Homo sapiens: one gene and its partners. The protein of the gene in region 4 purifies or fractionates together with the protein of the main gene of each other region. This does not show direct contact. Each region holds a gene or a part of one and is shown on either strand. Other genes may lie near its edges.

The links. Proteins that work in one complex are often made in the same cells at the same time.
Region 1: the proteins of PACC1 (region 4) and XPO4 purify together in Homo sapiens (co-immunoprecipitation; 3 studies listed by BioGRID and IntAct, with this or other methods). This does not show direct contact.
Region 2: the proteins of PACC1 (region 4) and NOP9 purify together in Homo sapiens (co-immunoprecipitation; 3 studies listed by BioGRID and IntAct, with this or other methods). This does not show direct contact.
Region 3: the proteins of PACC1 (region 4) and TBC1D15 purify together in Homo sapiens (co-immunoprecipitation; 3 studies listed by BioGRID and IntAct, with this or other methods). This does not show direct contact.

What each region holds. Positions count from the first base shown.
Region 1 is NC_000013.11:20,780,217-20,785,520, forward strand, and holds part of XPO4 (exportin-4), read right to left. Parts: intron 3,704-5,304; coding exon 3,506-3,703; 3' UTR 1-3,505. UniProt on the Homo sapiens protein: Mediates the nuclear export of proteins (cargos), such as EIF5A, SMAD3 and isoform M2 of PKM (PKM2). In the nucleus binds cooperatively to its cargo and to the GTPase Ran in its active GTP-bound form.
Region 2 is NC_000014.9:24,301,576-24,306,766, forward strand, and holds part of NOP9 (nucleolar protein 9), read left to right. Parts: coding exon of another isoform or gene 1-36; coding exon 37-147; intron 148-389; coding exon 390-531; intron 532-656; coding exon 657-849; intron 850-1,406; coding exon of another isoform or gene 1,407-1,415; exon of another isoform or gene 1,416-1,492; intron 1,493-1,498; coding exon 1,499-1,639; intron 1,640-2,156; coding exon 2,157-2,282; intron 2,283-2,465; coding exon 2,466-2,702; intron 2,703-2,917; coding exon 2,918-3,023; intron 3,024-3,362; coding exon 3,363-3,520; 3' UTR 3,521-4,057; coding exon of another isoform or gene 4,058-4,190; 3' UTR 4,191-4,371; coding exon of another isoform or gene 4,372-4,562; 3' UTR 4,563-4,798; coding exon of another isoform or gene 4,799-4,948; 3' UTR 4,949-5,191. Other genes in the region: lipid transferase CIDEB, read right to left, coding at 4,058-4,190, 4,372-4,562, 4,799-4,948.
Region 3 is NC_000012.12:71,844,985-71,850,288, forward strand, and holds part of TBC1D15 (TBC1 domain family member 15), read left to right. Parts: intron 1-3,307; exon of another isoform or gene 3,308-5,304. UniProt on the Homo sapiens protein: Acts as a GTPase activating protein for RAB7A. Does not act on RAB4, RAB5 or RAB6.
Region 4 is NC_000001.11:212,383,633-212,388,936, reverse strand, and holds part of PACC1 (proton-activated chloride channel), read left to right. Parts: intron 1-1,836; coding exon 1,837-2,046; intron 2,047-3,511; coding exon 3,512-3,663; intron 3,664-5,304. UniProt on the Homo sapiens protein: Chloride channel gated by pH that facilitates the entry of chloride ions into cells upon exposure to extracellular acidic pH. Involved in acidosis-induced cell death by mediating chloride influx and subsequent cell swelling.

The DNA.
Region 1 (5,304 bases), on a different chromosome or scaffold from region 4:
TCAAAGACAGCTAACTTAGTAAGGTCAATTGACAACCACCTCTAACAACAGAGGTGGCAAACAGATAAAAATTGTTTAACAGAGAAAAATATTATTTCAGGGTTCAGAATGATGTTGAATACTAGGAGACTCAAACTTGTAATCCTTGAAACTGACAGCTAGTTCCCTTCAATACTTTAGGGGTTCATAGAAGTATTAACAGAAATGGGAAACATGGTGATATTACAACTATAAAGACTTGACATTTTTGTTAAAAGAGAAAGTTCAAAGACAGTTAAGGGGAGTGTTAAATAATGCTGACTGGGGGGAAATGATATAGATACTTGCTTTTCAAATGAAAATCATGGACAAGTGGTAGTAACCATCCCATCTGAACAGAGTAATGTAATATAATTAGATACACAGTTTACAACGAAATAAGACTAAATTCTTAAAATTAGTTTGAAAAAAACCTGCAGTTTGTTTACATTAAAAGTCATACTTTACACCAGACAAAAACTCAATGCAGTGATGTTAACATGCTACTGTCTTCTAACAGAGATGGCCACCCTGAAAGACCCAAATAATGGTGCTGGAAAGGACACTGTCAAATACTGTCAGGTAGTTTTGCTACTGAGGCAGCCACTCATCCAGCACAAGGACTATAAAAGCAAATCAATCCTTTTAACAGAACAAGAACACAGTTACAGGTGCTACCACATTAACAGACTGTGAAAGTACAAAGTCTTTAGTGATTGTGCCTTGGGAAATAAATGGGTCAAGGAAAATAAAATGAGAAACAAACAAAGGATGTATGGAAAACTAGAGGTTAAAGGATACTATATGAACAACAGAAATTTTATAAAACAAAAATCTAAAAATGAAATACTTGACAGTGTCCCTTTGACATATATAAAAGAGGGCACAAATAATGTTTTTGTTTTAAAAAATATTTTAACAACAGTTTTAATAGAAAAAAAATCAACTGACTTGAATTAAGCCAGTGTTCTTGACACCCACTGGGCCAAGAGCATTAAAACAAAACAAGACCGGAGAAGTTAATAAACACAGCTAAAGACAAAATTGGACAAAATAAAACAAAAGAAAACACAAAGTGAATAAGCATCCAATCAGGCAAACATGGACACAACCACCCTGAAAAGGTCTAGCCGTTGCAACTCAGTGGCATCCCCATCACCTAAAAAATGGTAGTGGCTTCTCCCCACCCCAGTGAGCTAATATTCAACATTCTGCTGATCTTATAAGTATTATTTGGTCCAATCTGAAGAAGGTCTTTTTAAACTAAAACTAGTCTAATGAAATTACACCTCAGGAATATGGAGGTGAAATTTTCTATTTTTAGTATTGTAATAGGATCTGGGCAAATTTTGCAAATATGTTGCCATCTGGATAAAAGTTATTAAATATAGATGCCTTTTTACTTACCAAGGCATTCCTTTCCCACTCCTCTTTAGTTTTAATAACTTGATTATAGTTTTGTCATGGCGCGTGGACCTGTCCAGTCAATTGTGTGTTTCAGTGCCCTTTGGTAAAGAGACTGTACTTAGCACACACACAGATACACATAATTCACAACAGCTGAGAAAGCTTGAGGGATCTGGGAAACACAAAACACCAAGAACAATGCAAAACAAATAGATTACTGCTGCATATCACTTCAAGTTTTTTAAGGGGAAAAAAAAAACACCTAAAAATAAATGCATCAAAGTATTTTTTAAAATACAGAAACGTGTACTTCTGGATGACTGATATTAATTTCCTTCCTAGCAGTCTTTTCAAGATGTTTTTGCTTCCCCTTAATTGTGACTCAAAGCTAATCAAATTGAGAGAAATGTAAGTTATGGCCCAAGGCCCTGCATTCACATCTACCTAACATCACATGCACAGGTTGGATGTAATTCAGATGCTCCAGTTTTGTTAACTGTTAATAACACAGAATTATACAAAGTTTTGCACAGCATCACATGTAATGACACATATGCTATATGCAATCAGGTAGAAAAACCGTATTTGCAGAATGGTTTAATAGATAGGTGTCAGGAACATGGTGGAAGCAGAGTTTCATGAGTGCACCTGTGCCAGAGTCCTCTACCTGTCACTGTGCTGTGAAAGTACTGCAATGAGTGGAGTTTCATATGCCTGCTGTGTATAAATTAGCTTTCATTTCCACATTGTAAGCTGGCACACTGAATTAGGGGAGCCTGGCAGCTGTATAAAAATCCTGATTAAGAGATCAAACTAGAGGATCTAAAGTGAATTTTTAATCTCTGAAATTAAATTCACTGGCTCCCATGTCTGGATAAGAATTATTGCCCCTAATGCCCCAACGTGCAATAGTCTGTGTGAATCAGTGATTCACATCCTTTAAAATAATTATTGCTTAAGCAAGCCATTTAGAGTAGATATGGGCTATGTGGCTGGATAGAAACACACTCAAAAAGTTAGACTAGACGGAAACAAGCCTTTCATTTCACTGATAAACCTACATAAATACACGATCGAAAGGGGCAACAGGTTCATAGCAGCTAACACCCTAAACCAACTCTGAAGCATCAAGACGTGGTTTCTTACTAAAACAAATCAGCTGTTTTTGTATTTTCCTCTTAAAATTAAGGCAATGAAATGGCTACAGTTCCTAAGGTTATTTTTACGGAACAAAAATATACATGTATTTTCCTCCTCAAGTTCAGGCATCAGAGTATGATTAGTGACTTGTATTACACAAAACCTGCAGCACTGGGTTGATGTGAGAGAGAGAGAGAAAAGAAAGAGAGAGACAGAAAGCAAGAAAAGCAAGAAAGCAAGCAAGCAAGAAAGCAAGCTAAGAAAAAGCCAACAAACCCCTGGTGATGTTTCCCCTTCCTGCTGAATTATAAAACCCAATCATCAAAGGGAGGAAAAGCTAGAAAGCACAAAACCTCTTAAGAGTTTTCAATGTCTCTTTCATTGATTCAAAACTTTTGGGGTGACGAAAGGGAGAAGCTTATTAACATGAAGACTCCTGGGCCCAACAACCAGACATTCTGACTCTGAAGGTCTACAGTTGGGCCTAAGAATCTGCCTTTTCACCAGCTCCTCAAGTGATGCAGGCGATCTATGGAGATTTTGAGAAACACTGCCTAGCATATATCCATTTCATATTTAATGACAAAAATTCTAAACTTTGGCTAGCCACCTATGTTAAAAGGAAAAAAGGCACTGCATATGTATTTCGTGGTGCCCATATCTGTTTGCACATATATGGAATTTCATTTTGAAAATTTTAAATCACCATTCAGAATCTAAAAGACATATATATGACAGATTGTGGCTAACACTTAACAGCAGAAGCTGATGCCAAGTTGACCTCTCCTGTTTCACTGTATTACATACATATCAAAGTTTCAGGCTCTCCAAAATCCAAAATGGCCAAATGAACTGAGGAATAGGACAAGACTCAAGTCAACTTTCAGCAATTCAGTGCACTTTGCAGAAAGGATCTAAATTAAGCATAAAGTTCTGTTGTTTATTTTACACAAAGGAGACCACCAACATTTGCCATAAATTCTTCTAAACTCTTTAAGAAGGCCATCTTCTGCTTCCGATCCAGCGTAGGAGGAGTGCTGCTTGCAGTGAGCTTGTTGAAGGCATCTGCTAATCTCTGGTAAATAACTGGGTCTTGCTGACTTGATAGTAATGTTTCGACCAGTTCAGAATATTCAGCCTATTGAAGAGATAAAGTATACACAAGTATCCTCCTTAGAATATCATACAAGTAGATCTTATCAGTTACTGGACTGTGGGGTTCTAAAAGGCAGGGACACATTTTTAAGAGTTAACATTTAGAATAATTCAGCATTTAAGTACTACTGTTTGAAAACCTTTTACATGGATTAATTCATCTATCATTTACAACAATGCTTCGAGACAGGTACTGTTTCTATTCCCATTCCAGAGGTGAAGGTTTCGACACTCAGTGAGGTGAAGTGATATGGCCCAGATCAAGCAAGAGTCCACCAATCTAGCCCCAAGACCCATGTGATAATCAACTTTGTTGTGCTGCCTCTTCAAAGCACATTATTCCTATTTATGTTGCGTTTGACACATAATCTAAGTCTGCAATAGTTCCCCAGAGGTTAATAGAGATATCTGGTCCACCCAGTTCTGAGGACAGCAATGTGCACAAAGACAGGACAGGCAGGAGTCTTTTGGGAGGACGGGGCGGAGAAATATATTCCAGTGCCTTCTCCAAGTGGAGCAGGGCACTCTGAAAGCTCCAAACCAGCACTGTGCCCAGCAGCTCTTAGAGAAAGGGCAGGAAGAGGACTTTAGTAAATATAGGAATATGGGAAATTTTCTGTTTTTAATACTCTATTATAAAGCCTTATAAAGGAAAGTGGAAGAAGGTGTGGGCTTAAGGGAAATTCAACCAGGACAGAGGTAAGCTCTCAAAAAAAGCTGGCCTGGCCAAGCATAGTGGCTCAGGCCTTTAATGCCAGCACTTTGGGAGGCTGAGGAGGGATGACTGTTTGAGCCCGGGAATTTGAGACCAGCCTGAGCAACACAGTGAGATCCCACCTCTACAAAAAATTTAAAAATTAGGCAGTTGTGGTGGTGCACAGCTGTAGTCCCAGCTACTTGGGAGGCTGAGATGGGAGATCGCTTGAGCCCAAGAGGTTGAGGCTGCAGTGAGCCATGGTTGCTCCACTGCACTCCAGCCTGGGCAACAGAGTGAGATCCTGTCTCACTGCAACCTCTGTTTCCTGGGTTCAAGTGATCCTCCTACCTCAGCCTCCTAAGAGCCTGGGACTACAGGCATGCACCACCATCCCTGGCTAATTTTTGAATTTTTAGTAGGGACAGGGTTCTGCAATGTTGAGCAGGCTGGTCTCAAGCTCCCAGCCTCAATCAATCCACCCACCTTGGTCTCCCAAAGTGCAAAAATTACAAGCATGAGCCACTGCACCTGGCATGCTGTAATTTTTCATTGGCTTCTTGGGATATCATGATAGACCAAAATGGTGAAACCAAATGTTAATTACATTTGGAAAAGAAGGATAAGGTGCAGCATCCCAATCCCCAACCATGGAGCCAGAGTGGCTCCCCTAATTGCCTTATCAAAGGGACAGTCCTGTTCACAGGGGACCAAGTATAATCTCCTATCATTTCCCTACTCATGAGAAATGGTAGAGGTGGCAAGGCATGGTGGCTCACACCTGTAATCCTAGGCACTTTGGGAGGCCGAGGCGAGTGGATTGCTTAAGTTCAGGAGTTCGATACAAGCCTGGGCAACATGGTGAAACTCCGTCTCTACAAAAAATAAGC
Region 2 (5,191 bases), on a different chromosome or scaffold from region 4:
ATCTCCCCACTGCACATGTTCTTAATCTTCCTTCAGAAGCACAGAAGACCCCAGCTCAGGAATGTAAGCCAGCTGATTTTGAAGTCCCTGAAACCTTTTTGAATCGCCTTCAGGACCTGAGCTCCTCCTTTCTGAAGGACATTGCAGGTAAGGAGGGAAGTAGGAGGATGGTCTCGTATCTACTTGTCTGGAGGTCATCTTACCACCAAGCAAGGCCCTTACCTCAGGTTATTCCTCTTCTTTTCAAACCTGGTCTGGTTTGACGTTCAGAGCACTTTGTATAGTCCCTTTGTGTCCATAGTGCCCTGTATCTTGTTGCCTAAAGTTTGAGGTTACGCAGGTTGTCTGGATTTTGGGAAAGCCGCTTTATTTCTGCCCTCTCTCCACAGTGTTTATCACTGATAAGATCTCCAGCTTCTGTCTTCAAGTGGCTTTACAGGTTTTACACCGCAAACTTCCCCAGTTTTGCGCTCATCTCTGCAATGCTGTGATTGGCTACCTGAGTACTCGCGGTTCCTCAGTAGATGGCAGGTATGGTCAGGGCCTCAGGATCGACCCAAGTTGGCGGGGCTGTGTGAAATGAATGAGGTGATGTAGTGCAACTGTATTTTGCATGAAATGGAGTTAAGACTGCCTGATGCCCTTCTTGTCCCTAGTCCCCTACTGCTATTTCTCCGAGATCAGACGAGTTCCAGACTCCTGGAGCAGGTCCTGCTGGTGTTGGAGCCCCCAAGACTCCAGAGCCTCTTTGAGGAGCACTTGCAGGGGCAGCTGCAGACCCTGGCTGCACATCCCATTGCCAACTTCCCTTTGCAGCGCTTACTGGATGCAGTCACTACCCCTGAGCTGGTGAGTTGGAAACCTGAGCTGGATCTGTTTCTGCTAATTCTTGATCACTGGACCTTATTTTATGGTCTGTCTGCCTCTATATACCTTTGACATTGTGCTGGCCATTGCCCTTGAAAAGCTATTCTTTGAGGTTTTCCAGAGCTTAGGATAAAGGTGCCCACCTTCTAGTGAGGATTTGTTTTGACTTCTCTCAGGTATGAGGACCAGCAAGAAACTGGCTTTATTCAGGTTTACAGCTTGAGGTTCCATGGCCCACCCAGACTCTGGTACTTGGCTATAAGCCCACATGAGTGCTAGAGCTGTTGCCATAGCTTCTCTTTTCCTTTGCTGCTTAGGACTAAGGTGGGCTTCCCTGTGGTCTCATGCATTGGGTGTTAGAGTGGAAGTGCAGTTTAATTTTAGTCTCCCCTTGCTCCTAGTGCTCCCTTACACATAGGGAAGAGCCACTTAAAGTTCCTTCCTGTGAGGTGGCACCTCTAAGACTGCCCCCTTATCCTGGGCCTTATCTAGCCAAACAAAAGTCCTGATACTGGCAATGCTTTTTATGTTTTATCTAGCATTTTTAGTTGTTTTCGTTGGGAAGATTTCTCTGAATAATGTGGTCCGCCATTACCAGAATGCCAGAGTTACATTCCATGTTTCCCATCAGCTGTCCCCTGTGTTTGAGGAGCTGAGCCCTGTCTTGGAAGCTGTATTGGCCCAGGGCCACCCAGGGGTAGTCATTGCCCTGGTGGGGGCCTGTCGCAGAGTTGGGGCCTACCAAGCCAAGGTCCTACAGCTCTTGTTGGAGGTGAGTGGATATTACCCACAATCTGTTTATGCCCTCAGTTCAACTTCTACCTTTTAGGACTTATCTAATCTTAAGTTTTTGTACCTCTGGACTCAGGAAGTCTAATGCCCAAGGAGTTCACAGGAATGGGGGAAAATGAGGCCTATAGGTGCCCGCCACCATACCCAGCTAATTTTTTTTTTTTTTTTTGAGACGGAGTTTTGCTCTTGTTGCCCAGGCTGGAGTGCAGTGGCGCAATCTCAGCTCACCGTGCCCGGCTGAGGCCAAATGTTATTTCACAGTCCTGGAACAAAAATTGTCTCCCAGAACTAAGAGAGAAGTTTATTTAAGGGATAAACATTTATTAACCCCTGTATGTGATAGAGGCTGGGGATACAGCAAGGCATGACATCTGCTTTCATGGAGCTAACATTCTTGTGGAGTTGGGCCTTCTTTCCTTTCCTGAAGGTGTTCCCTTAAAGTTGAGGTAAGGGACGGAGAAGTTCTCAGGTTCATCATATTCTGTCTTCTCCTTTAGGCATTCCACTGTGCAGAGCCCTCATCCCGGCAAGTGGCCTGTGTGCCTCTCTTTGCCACTTTGATGGCTTATGAGGTGTACTATGGACTGACGGAGGAGGAGGGGGCAGTGCCTGCAGAGCACCAGGTGAGGTAGGGGAGAGGCCAAGCCAGTGACTAATTGGGAGTCAGGCCTCCCAGGGTTTAGCAAGCGTCTGACTTCTGAGGTGAGAGTGGTGACTTCATCCAGGTGGAGGTGGCAGTGTTCTGGGGATGGGCTCATCCACCTGGCTTGTTGGTGCCTCCTAATTTCTTATCTCTGCGCTGCCAGGTGGCAATGGCCGCAGCCAGAGCCTTGGGGGATGTGACAGTCCTTGGGTCTCTACTGCTCCAGCATCTGCTGCACTTCTCCACTCCTGGTCTTGTACTTCGAAGTCTGGGTGCCTTGACGGGACCACAGCTTCTGTCCCTTGCCCAAAGTCCCGCTGGCTCTCATGTGCTCGATGCCATCCTGACCAGCCCCTCTGTGACGCGCAAGCTGCGCCGCCGTGTGCTGCAGAACCTAAAGGTTAGATTTCTGGCTTTTGCCTTGATTCCCCACCATCATCCATTTAGAGAATATGAGCTTTCCCTGGACTGTACCTTCAGACTCAAAAAGGCTATGTAATTCCTAGACTATTTTAATTCAGCCCTTAAACTCTTCAGAAAATTCACTCTCCACAAGCCTCCAAAATACTTTTGTGGATTTTGCTAGGGAGACCTACTTTGCTTGTCTCCATACAGGGACAATATGTGGCTCTGGCCTGTAGTCGCCATGGCAGCCGTGTGCTAGATGCCATCTGGAGTGGAGCAGCCTTGAGGGCCCGGAAGGAAATTGCTGCTGAGCTTGGTGAGTACCAGCCCCTCTCTTTGATGTTTCCAGACTCTCCCCTCTCTTACTCCAGATCACTGGGTAGCTGGGAAGTCTACTGAAATTCAACAGTCTTTAGTTCCAAAGGGTGGTCTTGCTCATGGGTTCTTAGCAGTCTGCTTTCCCCTTCCCTCCCGCTGACTGATTGTGTAGTCCTCTGCCCTCACCCTGCCCTCTGACTTCTGTTCTTTGGAAAGTGAAGTGTTCACTTTATCCCAGTGGCAGTCCCAGGGTCTGGGGGAAATGGAGGGATCTTTACGTCAAGTAGAGTCTGTCTTTGAGCATGGTAGTACTAAACATGAGTGGTTCCCTTTGCAGGGGAGCAGAACCAGGAGCTGATAAGAGACCCTTTCGGCCACCATGTGGCTCGAAATGTGGCCTTGACTACCTTCCTAAAGCGGCGAGAGGCTTGGGAACAGCAGCAGGGTGCGGTGGCCAAGCGGAGGCGGGCATTGAACTCCATACTTGAAGACTGAGGCTTTGGATCTGGGACTGGGTGTTGATGGGGGAGGGCAAAATGGGGTATCCACCCCATCCCTTTCCTGGTTTAAATTGGAGTCAGAAGTCTTAGTGGTAAATATTTGATATTTTTATTGGAAATGTTTTTGTTAGTTTGAGGGGAAGGGTATGAAGACAGATCTCAAGGTAAAGTCAGAGAGGGCTGTCATCAGTATGCTGGGGAGTTTAGGGACAGGAGGCATTGGTAGGGGATTAGATGTAGCAGCAGTCAGGCTGGGATCAAGATGCCTGGGGGACATCTTGATCTTGGCCTTTCAGGGCAAGTGGGAGGCCAGAAAGGTGGCTAGGAAAGAACAGCATTCTTCAGGTAAGGGTATAGACTTGGGATGTGAGGCGTTATGCTGAAAGGTTCTGTCACGAGGGGATCAGAGGACAGTGGGGAAATTGGGTGGGTTATCTAGCCTGTACTGTCTGCAGGTCCTGAAATTTGATGCTGTCATAGTCTTTGCAGTGGGTCGGTTGGAATGATTCTGGGGGCAGAAGCTCAGAGCCCCTTAGTAGGAATGGAGGCGGCCCTTCTGCTGCCACTGCTCAGCCCCCTCCACTGCATGACGAAGGGTGGAGGAAATTCCCAGCAACATATGGCCCAGGCCTTGCAGCAGTGTGGAGGTCCAACGAAGGAGCTCCCTGAATGGCAGAGACAAGAGGAAATCAGATGATTTGGAAAACTTGGGAGGAAGCCATCAAGCTGGGAGATGAGGACTTTCCACAAGCAAGAGCTAACTAGGGGTAGGTGGGTGCAAGAGGACGAATTATGGGGACTATCCAACTGTAGGGGATGGGGCAGTATGACATGTTGATTTCTGACCTGAGTACTTTCTTTGGGCCAAGTCCTTGAAAGTCACAACTCATAGAGTAGAGCCCGTAGAATGTGGCTTTGACATTCAGGCTGCCAAAGAGGTCTCGAGGGTTTTGCTTGTACACGTCAAAGGTGAATCGGGCGATGTCCTTGCTGTGCTTGGGCCTCTCCCGTCCCAGGCCATATGACAGCACTCCACTCTGTAGGACACCCTTGTCAGTGCAGTAGATCCTCATACCAGACACCCACCACTAATCTCCATCAGCACTGGGTCAGACCCTCCCTCGCTTGGACTTTCTGTCCACTGTGTGACATCCTTGACAATTCCACAACTCCTCCTGCACCTGGTCCCCAGGATCAGGGTTAAGCTAGAGAGGAAGCCCGGGAAAGCTCTAAAGGACAGGCATTGGAAGCAGCCCCAGTATAGGCCTCTTACCCTTGTAGGGCTCCAGCTCTGACCAGACTGCAACACCATCAGGCACGTGTCATCCTCCAGCAGCTGGAAGAAGTCCTCACTGTCCACTGCAGTTCCATCCTCCTCTAGCACCAGGGTTAGCACTCCATTCAGCAGTAGGGTCTCCAATGCCTGCCCAATGGCAAGAAGCAAGAAGGGCAGGTCTTATCCCATGCCCCTTCCCTCTTTAGCTGCCCAACATCCATCAGTTGGCTCTAGACATTGGTCGATGTCCCACTTTGACTTTCCGGCACTTTGATACCTCCTAAAGGTTGCAGCTCTCCGTGTTCTTCAGTTTTTGGGGGATCCTAGCTAGAGGCTGACCTTTTTCCTCTTTGCTCCTACCATGTCATTGGCATCTCCCCTTGCTCCCCT
Region 3 (5,304 bases), on a different chromosome or scaffold from region 4:
AGTTCAAAGAATTTGGGCAGGCTATTGCTTATGTTCTTTTCTGAAGGATTTAGTAGAAGTTATTTGCAGAGAGAAAGGATAAAAGGGTGTTCCAGGTAGATGGAACAGAATACACCTGAAAAAAGGTACAAAGCTTTTGGGTAACAGAGTTCACAATGGCCCAAGGCAGAAATGTTTTATGTGTTGGGGAGTATCAGGAAGTATAGCCTCACTGTAGAGGTAAAGGGTGAAGTCAGAAGATTTTTAAGCCCCTGTGTGGTATAACCAGATGGACATTTTGTAAAGGTTAGTTTGGGCAGTGGTTATACATTATGCACCTTAGGCAGATTATTGGAAGGTGACTAGATCAGAAGAAGAGAGATCAGAATGTTATTTTAGTGACTTAGGCTAGAAATGATAAGGGGCCAGTGTCAGAGGAGAAGGTTCGAGGGACTTAGGTTATAGGGTCTGGATGGTGAAAGAAGCATTTAGAATAAGTGGGTGGATGAGATATCTTTGACAGAATTGGGAATATAGAAGAAGAGCAGGTTTAGATAGAACACATGAGATTAAGATGCCTTATTGAAATGGAGATACCAAGTAGGTGCTTAGATATTTGGGTGTGGAGCCCATTAGGATGCTCAGTCTCGCATTTCCTGGGGATGCTTTCTGGAACCATATGCTCAAATTATCATCTGTATGCCAAATAGTTTTGAAAGAAACTGAACTTTTGTACCTTTTTTGGTTGTTATATTAGCCTGTAAGTTCACATAATTGCTAAAGTTAAGAATGCATGTTGTGTATGATAGGTGATGGGTTTCCAAGTTTGGAGAATGATTTAGGGCAATAATTTTACCCTGAACTTACTGCTACATTTAAAATATTTGGGTTGAATTTTTCCTTTATCTTCCATTTTTGGAAATAAATAAAAATTATAATAATCATAATATAAGTAAAAATTCAGTATTAAGTGTAGGGACAGTATAAAAAATTACTACTGTATTGTGAAACTTCCTTATTTTTTCCAGCTCTTTGTGTCAGGAAGGATGTTCTTGAGTTGGATTGTGCAAAAGTTCATTCTGTCTAAAAGTTGAATTTATCTGTTTTTCTGCCTCATTTTTGCTTTTTAATTAAAACTTTTGCTAAATTAGAGGTGAGAAAATTTATTCTAAAATGTTTGCTGTGGTCACCAGAACTCTTTTAATAAGGTATATCTGACATAGCTCCTTTGCTAGAGGAGAAAAACAAAATACAGTTTCTGTTGCTTTCAGCAGGCCATCATTGGAAGTTTTATAAATGTACTTATCTGCTTGGGCATCTTAGCAAATATTTAAGAATAAATAAGAGCCTGGAGGGCATGAGACATTTTTATCCCAAAAGGAAAACTTTCCTCCTTTTTTTTGTAGTATTTTTACACTTAGAATATTCCTTCTTTACCTTTTCAATAATTTTGCCAGGTACAGACAAGCAAGGAACTCTAATACCTTTTAATTTCTCTGTTCTTTATGATGTCTGGCACATAATTGCTTCATAAAAGTTTGTTGAATTGAATTTTATACAGTCAGTTTAGCACCACCAAGTGGCAAGTCTTTGAATGCTCTTGATATATTTTGCTTCCTATGAACACCTGATTCCCAGCTAAGTGAGGGTATGATTGTTAATTTTTTTTTGAGGCAGGACTAATTTCTTTCTTTTTAGTGAGAATGTCCTCATGTATGTATGTATTTATTTTTAATTAGGTTTTTACTGTTTACAACAATGGACTTTCTATGTAAATTATTTTTTATACAGCTTTTTTTTTTTTTTTTTTTGCCCTGAGACATGGCCTTGGTCCGTGGCCCAGGCTAGAGTGTAGTGTGTGATCTCGGCTTACTGCAGCCTCCGCCTCCTGGGCTCTAGTGATCCTCCCACTTCAGCCTCCTGAGTAGCTGGGACTAAAGGCATGCACCATCACACCCAGCTAGTTTTTGTATTTTTTGTAGAGATGGAGTGTTGCCGTGTTGCTCCGTCTGCTTAGAACTCTTGGCCTCAAGTGATCCGCTCACCTTGGCCTCCTAAAGTTCTGGGATTACAGGTGAGGCACTGTACCTGGCCTATACAGCTATTTTTGAGATACAATTGATATGATAGACCACATGTATTTAGAGTATACAACTTTGACATTTGTGTACACCATGAACCCATGAACACAATTAAGATAATGATGTTTTCACCACCTCTGTTAGTTTTCTCGTGACTCACTGTACCATCACTCCATGTGTCCTCAGGCAACCACTGAGCATTTTTTGGTCACTATAAATTAGTTTTAATTTTCTAGAACTTTATATAAATGGAATTATATAGTATATACTCTGTTTTTGTATGGCTTTCTTTATTCAGGATAATTATTTTGAAATTCATGGTGTTGTATGTATCATTAGTTTTTTTTTTATTTCCAAATAATATCCATTGGGCCAGGCACGGTGGCTCACGCCTGTAATCCCAGCACTTTGAGAGGCTGAGGCGGGTGGATCACGAGGTAAGGAGTTCGAGACCAGCCTGACCAACATAGTGAAACCTTGTCTCTACTAAAAATACAAAAATTAGCTGGGTGTGGTGGTATGTGCCTGTAATTCCAGCTACTCGGGAGGCTGAGGCAGGAGAATTGCTTGAACATGGGAGGCAGAGGTTGCAGTGAGCCGAGATTGTGCCACTGCTCTCCAGCCTGGGTGACAGAGCGAGACTGTCTCGAAAAAAAAACCCCACAAATAATATTCATTGTATGGGTATACCACATTTTGTTTATCTAGTCATGTGTTTGATAGACATTTGGGTTATTTCCACTTTGACTGTTACAAATAAAGCTGCTCTTAGGCCAGGTGCCGTGGCTCACACCTGTAATCCCAGCACTTTGGGAGGCCGAGGTGGGTGGATCACCTGAGGCCAGGAGTTCAAGACCAGCCTGACCAACATGGAGAAACCCTGTCTCTACTAAAAATACAAAACTAGCTGGGCATGGTGGTGCATGCCTGTAATCCCAGCTACTCGGGAGGCTGAGACAGGAGAATCGCTTGAATTCAGGAGGCAGAGGTTGCGGTGAGCCAAGATCTTGCCACTGCACGCCAGCCTGGGCAACAAGAGCGAAACTCTGTCTCGAAAAAATAATAAAACAAACAAATAAATAAAATAAATTAAAGCTGCTCTGAGCATTGGTATATGTGTTTTATGAAAATATGCTTTCATTTTTCTTGATTGGATACCTGGGAATGGGGTGGCTGGATCATATATATTAGTTGTGTGTGTAGCATTTTAACACACTGCCAAATTGTTTTCCAAAGTAGGTGTAGTGTTTTATATTTCCACTGGCAGTGTATGAAAGTTCCAGTTGCTTCATATTTTTGCCCATATTTAATGTCAGTCATTTTAATTTTAGCCATTCTAATAGGTGTGTAATAGTGTTTCATTATGGTTTCAGTTTACATTTCTGTAATGACTAATGGTGTTGAGTATTTTTCCATGTGCTTATTTGCTGTCCTTGTATCTTCTTTGATGAAGTGTCTGTTTAAATCTTCTGCTTATTTTTTTTCAAACTGTGTTTTTTTGTCACTGAGTTTTTAGTGTTCTTTTTATGTCCTGGATTTTATATTCTGGATACAAATCCTTTTAATACAAGTTCATTTGGGTCTTTTTAAAAAAATTATTTATTTTTATTCATCTTATATAAAAGGGGGGCCAAATCTAAGAAAATAATGTTATGTCAAAGTTTGTTTTTTAAAGCATAAACTTTCAGAGTTTGTTTTAAGGTTAATACATAGAGTGCTAGCTTTTTAGTCACCTGAGAATCAGGAAATTCACTTGGACGTAATTCCCTGTGGTAACAAAGAACTATGGCTTCCTATGGGTTTGTCAAGCTCCTAGGCTTCATTCAGCCTGAAATTATACTTTTCTTGTTATGTATAAATTAAATAAAATCTATACAACTGTCTGTTCTTCTGTTGCCTCACATCATGTCTATAAAAACAGCATTTAAAGTTTGCAGGAAATAGAATTTTGGCCTGTTACAAAGCAAACACTTTGTTTCTTTAACTCAGAATTCTGGAAATGCAATCAAGTTCTAGTATTGTGACTGCCAAAATATTTTGTCATCAGATATTAATTTTTTTCAAGTGTCTGACTCCATACAAGAAAATAATAAAAGTATCAGAAGTTAACTGTGATTATAAAAAAAAAAAAAAACAAAAAAAAAACAAAAAACTTCAGTGTCCATAGGGTTGTTCCTCATGGTTTGTTAGGATACTCCTGCCTGATCCAAGTGCATCAGGTCTGAGACTGTTCTTTGTTCCACGCTTCTATCTGCCAGAAGAATCTTTTTAGGTAAGGAGGCTATCATAGGAGGCAATGGAGCTTCTAGCTGTTGTCCAAGGAATGAAAGCAGGCGCCTCCAGCTGAGCCACTTCCCATGAACATAATTCCTGTAATCAGTCAAAACACTCCATGGGCCTCTTCAAGGGAAGATTCCAAACTCATTCCAAAAGCAACTTCCATTACTCCAAAGAGCGAAAGAGAGAAGGTTCTTATGGTCAGCTGTAGATTCAACTTCATTATCACGTTACAGTGGCTGTCCAGATTGATGAAAATAATACTTTGTGAATCATCAGTCAGTACCGTAAGCTCCTAAGCTGCATTGGAGACATCGTCAGCTAGTCGGTAGTAGTTTTCCATCAGCAACTCTATCTCCTCTGCATGGTCAGTCCCAGTACTGCTCTTTTCAAAGACTCGGGGGTCACTCCATTTTGATAGAGCTCTTCTAGCAACTCTTTCTCATCCAGGATCTCCAAAATTGACTCTGAAAATTTTAATATCTGTTTCTAACTCTAATAGACTTTTGCCATTCTGTAGTAAAATGTGGAGTTTGCTTCTGTCTATAGAAGAATGTTTGGGGTCCACCAAAGCTTCCAGCGTCTTGAGGATCAGTGGCTGGAAAAGGCTAAGTTTCCCCTGAAGGGTGTTGATCCAGTATTGCAGGAGTGCTTCTATAGCTCTAAACTCAAAAAATTAAAGGGTTTCTAACAAGTTGACCCTCTCCAGACAATTGTGAAGAGAGTTCCCGGAACAGCCATCGCTGTGAGTTTAAATTATGATAATCTAATATCAGAAGACACTCTGGAGTTATCTCAGCTTTCAAATACTCCATTCTCATGATAATCATATTATTTCTGGCTGTGATACTCATTACATAGTGAAATCTCAAATCTCTGGCTTGAAGACCTAACTCTTGGTATAACTCAGTTTTCTTCCTTTCAAAAGAAGTAACATTTCTCTGTCAAATTTTGTCATGGTAAATAC
Region 4 (5,304 bases):
ACCTTTTGGGGCTTACGTTCAGATGCTTCCCTTGTTCTCAGCCTTGTGCTCAGCTGGGCTGTGGAGGAAATAGGACTTCTTCTCAGGGAGCTCCATTTTCAGCTGAGGAGCAGAGAGGGCACAGGGAGCCCTGTGGGAGTATCTTAGTCAGCTCAGACTGCTGTAACAAAATGCCACAGTTGAGTGGCATAAACAACAGAAATTTATTTCTCACAGTTCTGGAAGCGAGAATCCAATATCAAGGTGCCAGCAGGATTGAATTCTGGTGAGGCCTTTCTCCTTGGCTTGCAGATGGCTGCCTTCTCATTGTGTCCTCACATGGCCTTTTTTCCTGTGTGCATGTGCTCCTAGTGTCTCCTCCTCTTATAAGGATTCTGGTCCTATTGGATCAGGCCTCATCCTTATGGCCACATTTAACCTTAATTATATCCTTGAAGTCCCTGTCTCTAAATATACTCACATTGAGGGTTAGGGCTTCAACCTGAATTTGAGGGTGGGGGATACAGTTTCGTCCATAACAGAGATTAATCTAGCTTCTAGCCTCAGGATTTTGTGAGGGAGGTAGGGGAGACAGAGTTGTGTTGTACCAATAGCATCAGGACGTGTTCAATCAGTCACCATGTAAATGCAGAATGTTCCAGGCATAGCATGAAGGGCTAAGGATTCAGTTAGGGATAAGACTGGCCCCATCCCTGCCCTCATGGAACTCACAGCCTAGGAGGATAAAAGATGTATAGACATGACATTGCAGAGTGATGAAGTAGGGGACGTACAGGGCTCCCTGGGAACACTGAGGAAGAGGTGCCCAAATAAAGGTTAGGGGTCAGGAGAGGCTTCCTCAAGAAAATGTCTTTCTTTCTTTTTTCTTTTTTTTTTTTTTTTGAGATGGAGTTTCGCTCTTGTTGCCCAGGCTGGAGTGCAATGGAGTAATCTCGGCTCACTGCAACCTCCGCCTCCTGGGTTCAAGCAATTCTCCTGCCTCAGCCTCTTGAGTAGCTGGGATTACAGGCATGCGCCACCACGCCCAGCTAATTTTGTATTTTTAGTAGAGACAGGGGTTTCACCATGTTGGTCAGGCTGGTCTCGAACTCCCGACCTCAGGTGATCCTCCTGCCTCGGCCTCCCAAAGTGCTGGGATTACAGGCTTGAGCCACTGCGCCTGGCCAAGAAAATGTCTTTCTAAATTAAAATGCTTCCATGGAAGGATGGCGTGACCAAGCTACTCTGTCACTGTTGGAAGCCAGATGCCAAGCAAAAAGCTTTCGGGGCTTAGGATGAGTGAAGCATCAGCTGTGGAAGAAAAGAAAATCAAGCAGAGGGAATGGTAAGTGTGAGGGAATCCCGGGTTGAGAAGGGCACTCCAGAAGAACAGAAAGTCGATGAGTAGAGGTGGAGCTAGAGCTGGGAGAACTGGGGAAGTGGAGCAGTGAGGGATAAGGCCAGAGAGGTAGGTTGGGGCCAGCTCACTTGTTGGATTGTAACTGCCTATCCCTCTAGAGAGTAAACTCCTTTTTTCTGTTCTTTTTGTTTGTTTTTTGCTTTTTCTTTTAACATTTTTATCGTTTTTTATCTTTTATCTTTTTTCTTTTGAGAGTAAACTCCTTAAAGACAATGAATAAGTCTCCTTCAGCTTGGTGTCCTCTACCTGGCAGAGAAGCTGTGTAGTAAATGTTTACAGGTGCCCTTTGTTATGATTTGTGGGGTGAGGTGGAAAGGTTGGGCGTGCAGGTGACTTCACCTCCTTGGTGAGGCAGGCAAGGGCCTGGAGGTTGCTGGCCATCTCTGTCTGTACCTTGTCCCTGTGCCCTGGGTCACATGGTGTTTTGTTGTTGTCAGGCCTGGACAGCGAGTCCGCCTCCAGCAGCATCCGCTTCAGCAAGGCCTGCCTGAAGAACGTCTTCTCGGTCCTACTCATCTTCATCTACCTGCTGCTCATGGCTGTGGCCGTCTTCCTGGTCTACCGGACCATCACAGACTTTCGTGAGAAACTCAAGCACCCTGTCATGTCTGTGTCTTACAAGGAAGTGGATCGCTATGATGCCCCAGGTAGAGCCTGCCCCTGGGCCAGGCATCAGGGCCCCAGATCTAGGGTGTCAGCTGGCAGATACTCCCTGAGCTGCCGTTGTATTTGTGGTACTACGGGCAGGGCAGAGGAGTCCAACCAAGCATAGTCTAGGTATAGAGTCTATGCCCAAGGAGCTGCTGTTGGGAGTGTGTTACGTGCTGAGGACAGAAATGGACAGAGCCTGGAGCAGCTACTGCAGGCTACTAGAGGGGTCAGGGAAAGCTTGGCAGAGAGGTAGGATTTGAGATGGGCCTCGAAAAGCACATAGATGGGAAGAGAGTGTCTTTGGGATGGGGATCAGCAGAGCGAAGGGGTGTCTAGGGAGGCAGAGGGCTTCTCTGGAGAGGATGAGACTAACTTGGCTGGGGCCAGAGGGCAGGGATGAGGAGAAGCAGGAGTCAAGGCTGGACTGTGGGGTGGGGAGGATGGCAGGGGAGGCGAGGCCATTCAACCCTGCCTGGAGAGGGACTCCCAGGCCACACTGGGTATACCTGTCTCACTGGGGTGTCTGGTCCCTGAGTGGGGAGTCCACTCTGCTATAGAGCAAGCTATCTGCTCTGGGCTGCAGGGCTGGCACTGGATGTTCTAGGGGCTGTAGAGTAAATGAGGAGGCATGAGCTGTGTGACTTGGGCCCTGTCCACCCAGTGTGTGCCACCTGTTCTGCCCACAGATGCCCCTGAGTAACCTGTGGGAGGGCCTGCTCACATGGCAGAGCCAGAGTCCGGGTGCCCTCTCTCTGGGGCTTCCTGCCAGCCTCCAGCAGAGTCAGGTGTGCTGGTCATGGCTCCTCTGCCCATCTCTTCCTGTCTTGTGTTTGTCCCTCTTCTCTGTGTGTCTGCTTGAGTCTTCTTTATCTGTACGTTTTACTTTCTCTGTCTGGTGTCTTAGTGTCTCTGAAGTCTGTCTGTCTCTGATGCCATGTGCTGCTGTCTTAGCATTGCTGCCCTTGAGGCTGGACAGCTACTGTCAGTAGAGGTGCCTGGGCTGGGAAGAGGGAGGGACTCTTGGGATGTGACTTGCACACTTGGGGCTCCCAGTCTAAGAGACAAAATGAGTTCTGAGGAGTTCCACAGTTTAGAGCCTCCCAGTGATTCTGCAGGTGGGTGTTGGCCCAGAGGGGTGGCACAGGGGCTGAGTCAAGAGACACTCCTTCGGAGGGTGTGGAGCGGGGCTCTGAGGTGGAGTGGGTTTTGATGTGGGCATCAGGGCGGCTGGATCCCAGGTTGGCCAGGGGCTTACTGAGGAGGGGCTTGTGCCCTCTGCTACAGCGGGGCTTTCTGAGGCCAGGGGATGTGGCTCCTCACCCTCTGAAACCCTTTTCTTCTCCCTTCCCTGCAGTCCTCCAGGGAGTCCAGAACGTAGGTTGTTGGTAGGTGTGAGATGATTTCAGGGATGTGGTCAGGAGTGTGATTTCTGACACTTGCTTTTCCTGTTTGTGCCCCCAGGTATTGCCTTGTACCCCGGTCAGGCCCAGTTGCTCAGCTGTAAGCACCATTACGAGGTCATTCCTCCTCTGACAAGCCCTGGCCAGCCGGGTGACATGAATTGCACCACCCAGAGGATCAACTACACGGACCCCTTCTCCAATCAGACTGTGGTAATTCCTGTCTGCCTGAGCTGGGTCTGGGCAGCTGCTCTGTTAGCCCCGCAACCCAAGGCCCCAAGTTTCCTTTTTCCTAGGAGTCCTTCTTCCACTCACTCAGTGTGGGGCCTTAGTCCCCAAGGAGACATGCGGCTGTGCCATGTGGACACTTGGCTGTGGTTGGCTCACTTGCATTCAGGGAGGACAGTGAGGCCTCCAGCCTTTGCTGAGTAATGCTCAGGGATTCCTGACAGTGCGGTGAGACCCTGTCCCCAATGGAAGAATGGCAGGGCTAAAGGGTGGGGCTGGTGCGATATAGCGAAGTGGGTCCCATACCTGACCACTTGACAGAATTGCCAGGATACTTTTTGAAAATATGAATTTCTAGGTTCCATGTGAAGCCAACTGAATTATAATTCCTTAGGTGGGGCCTGAGAATCCATAGTTTGAAATTAATACGCCAGCGTAAAGGAGCGTCGGTCTGGGGACAAGGACTCCTGGGCCCTGGGCTGGCCATGCTGTCGTGCACAACACAGCACGGCTGGGAAGGATGACTGAGGGATGGGGTTAGGAGCGCCCTGGAGGAGTGGCACTGCACAGGGTTTCAAAGACAGGGTAGGCGTTTTGTATTGATTTACATCTCATCTTTTTCATTTCATATTCTTGCTTCAGAAAGCATTGAAAGGGGCTACAATAGTTTTCCAGATGAAATTGGGAAGGAAAGGTTTTCTAGGCAGAGGAAATTGCACCATGACCTAAAGGGAAGAGACGACATGTTGTACTTGTGCCTCTGGGCACAATTGCAGTTGGTGGGGAAATGTTTCATAGGGTCAGGAGCCCTGGAAGACTGATGGGTGATGAAGCTGTGGACAGAGTAATGGCCAGATGAGAAAAGAACATGCATCGTGCTGTAGAGCCACACTTGCTCCCTTGGGTAACAGGGAACTGTTAGTGGGTTTTAAGATGAAAGAATAACACTAATTTTTTTTTTGTTAGTATGTGAACGCTAGGCCCCCTCCTAAAATCCTGCTAAAATGATTCTCTAAGGAATGAGATAGAACAGACTAGAACATCAATAATAGCTTTGCACGTGAAGAAAGGATATCACCAGTGGACCAGACATTTTGAGGAACTGGTATAAAGCATAAAAAACAGCTTGGGCCAGATTGGTGGAGCAAACAAATTAGAGCAAATCCCTAACCCAAAACAGATGAAGGAGAGACCTGTTGTAGAGGTACAAGCTTTCCTTCCAAACCCCCAGCTTGGAATCAGCACCGTTAGAGAGCAGGGTAGTCATTACTGGACTGCCTGTTGGCTGGGCCAGACACACCCTATACCCTCCCCAGGTATGCAGAGCCGCTGGGGATGGTTGCCTCTGGGTAAAAGACCCTGGAACCATTCTCTACAGAAGCGAAGGGAAGATGATTCTTTGTGTAGGCATAGGAAACAGAGCAGACTTCTACAATGGAAAAGGAGAGAGAACTAAAGGAAAGGACTCTTCCCAGAGTAAAACACACTGGAAAACTCAGTGTGCTTCCACAGAGCATACTTAGCTTTCCCATGCAAGGGAGAGGCCTATTAGAGAAACAGAAATTTACTACTTTGGAAGAAACCAAAACCCAGACCTATACTAGTCAACCTAATCCTTCATTCATA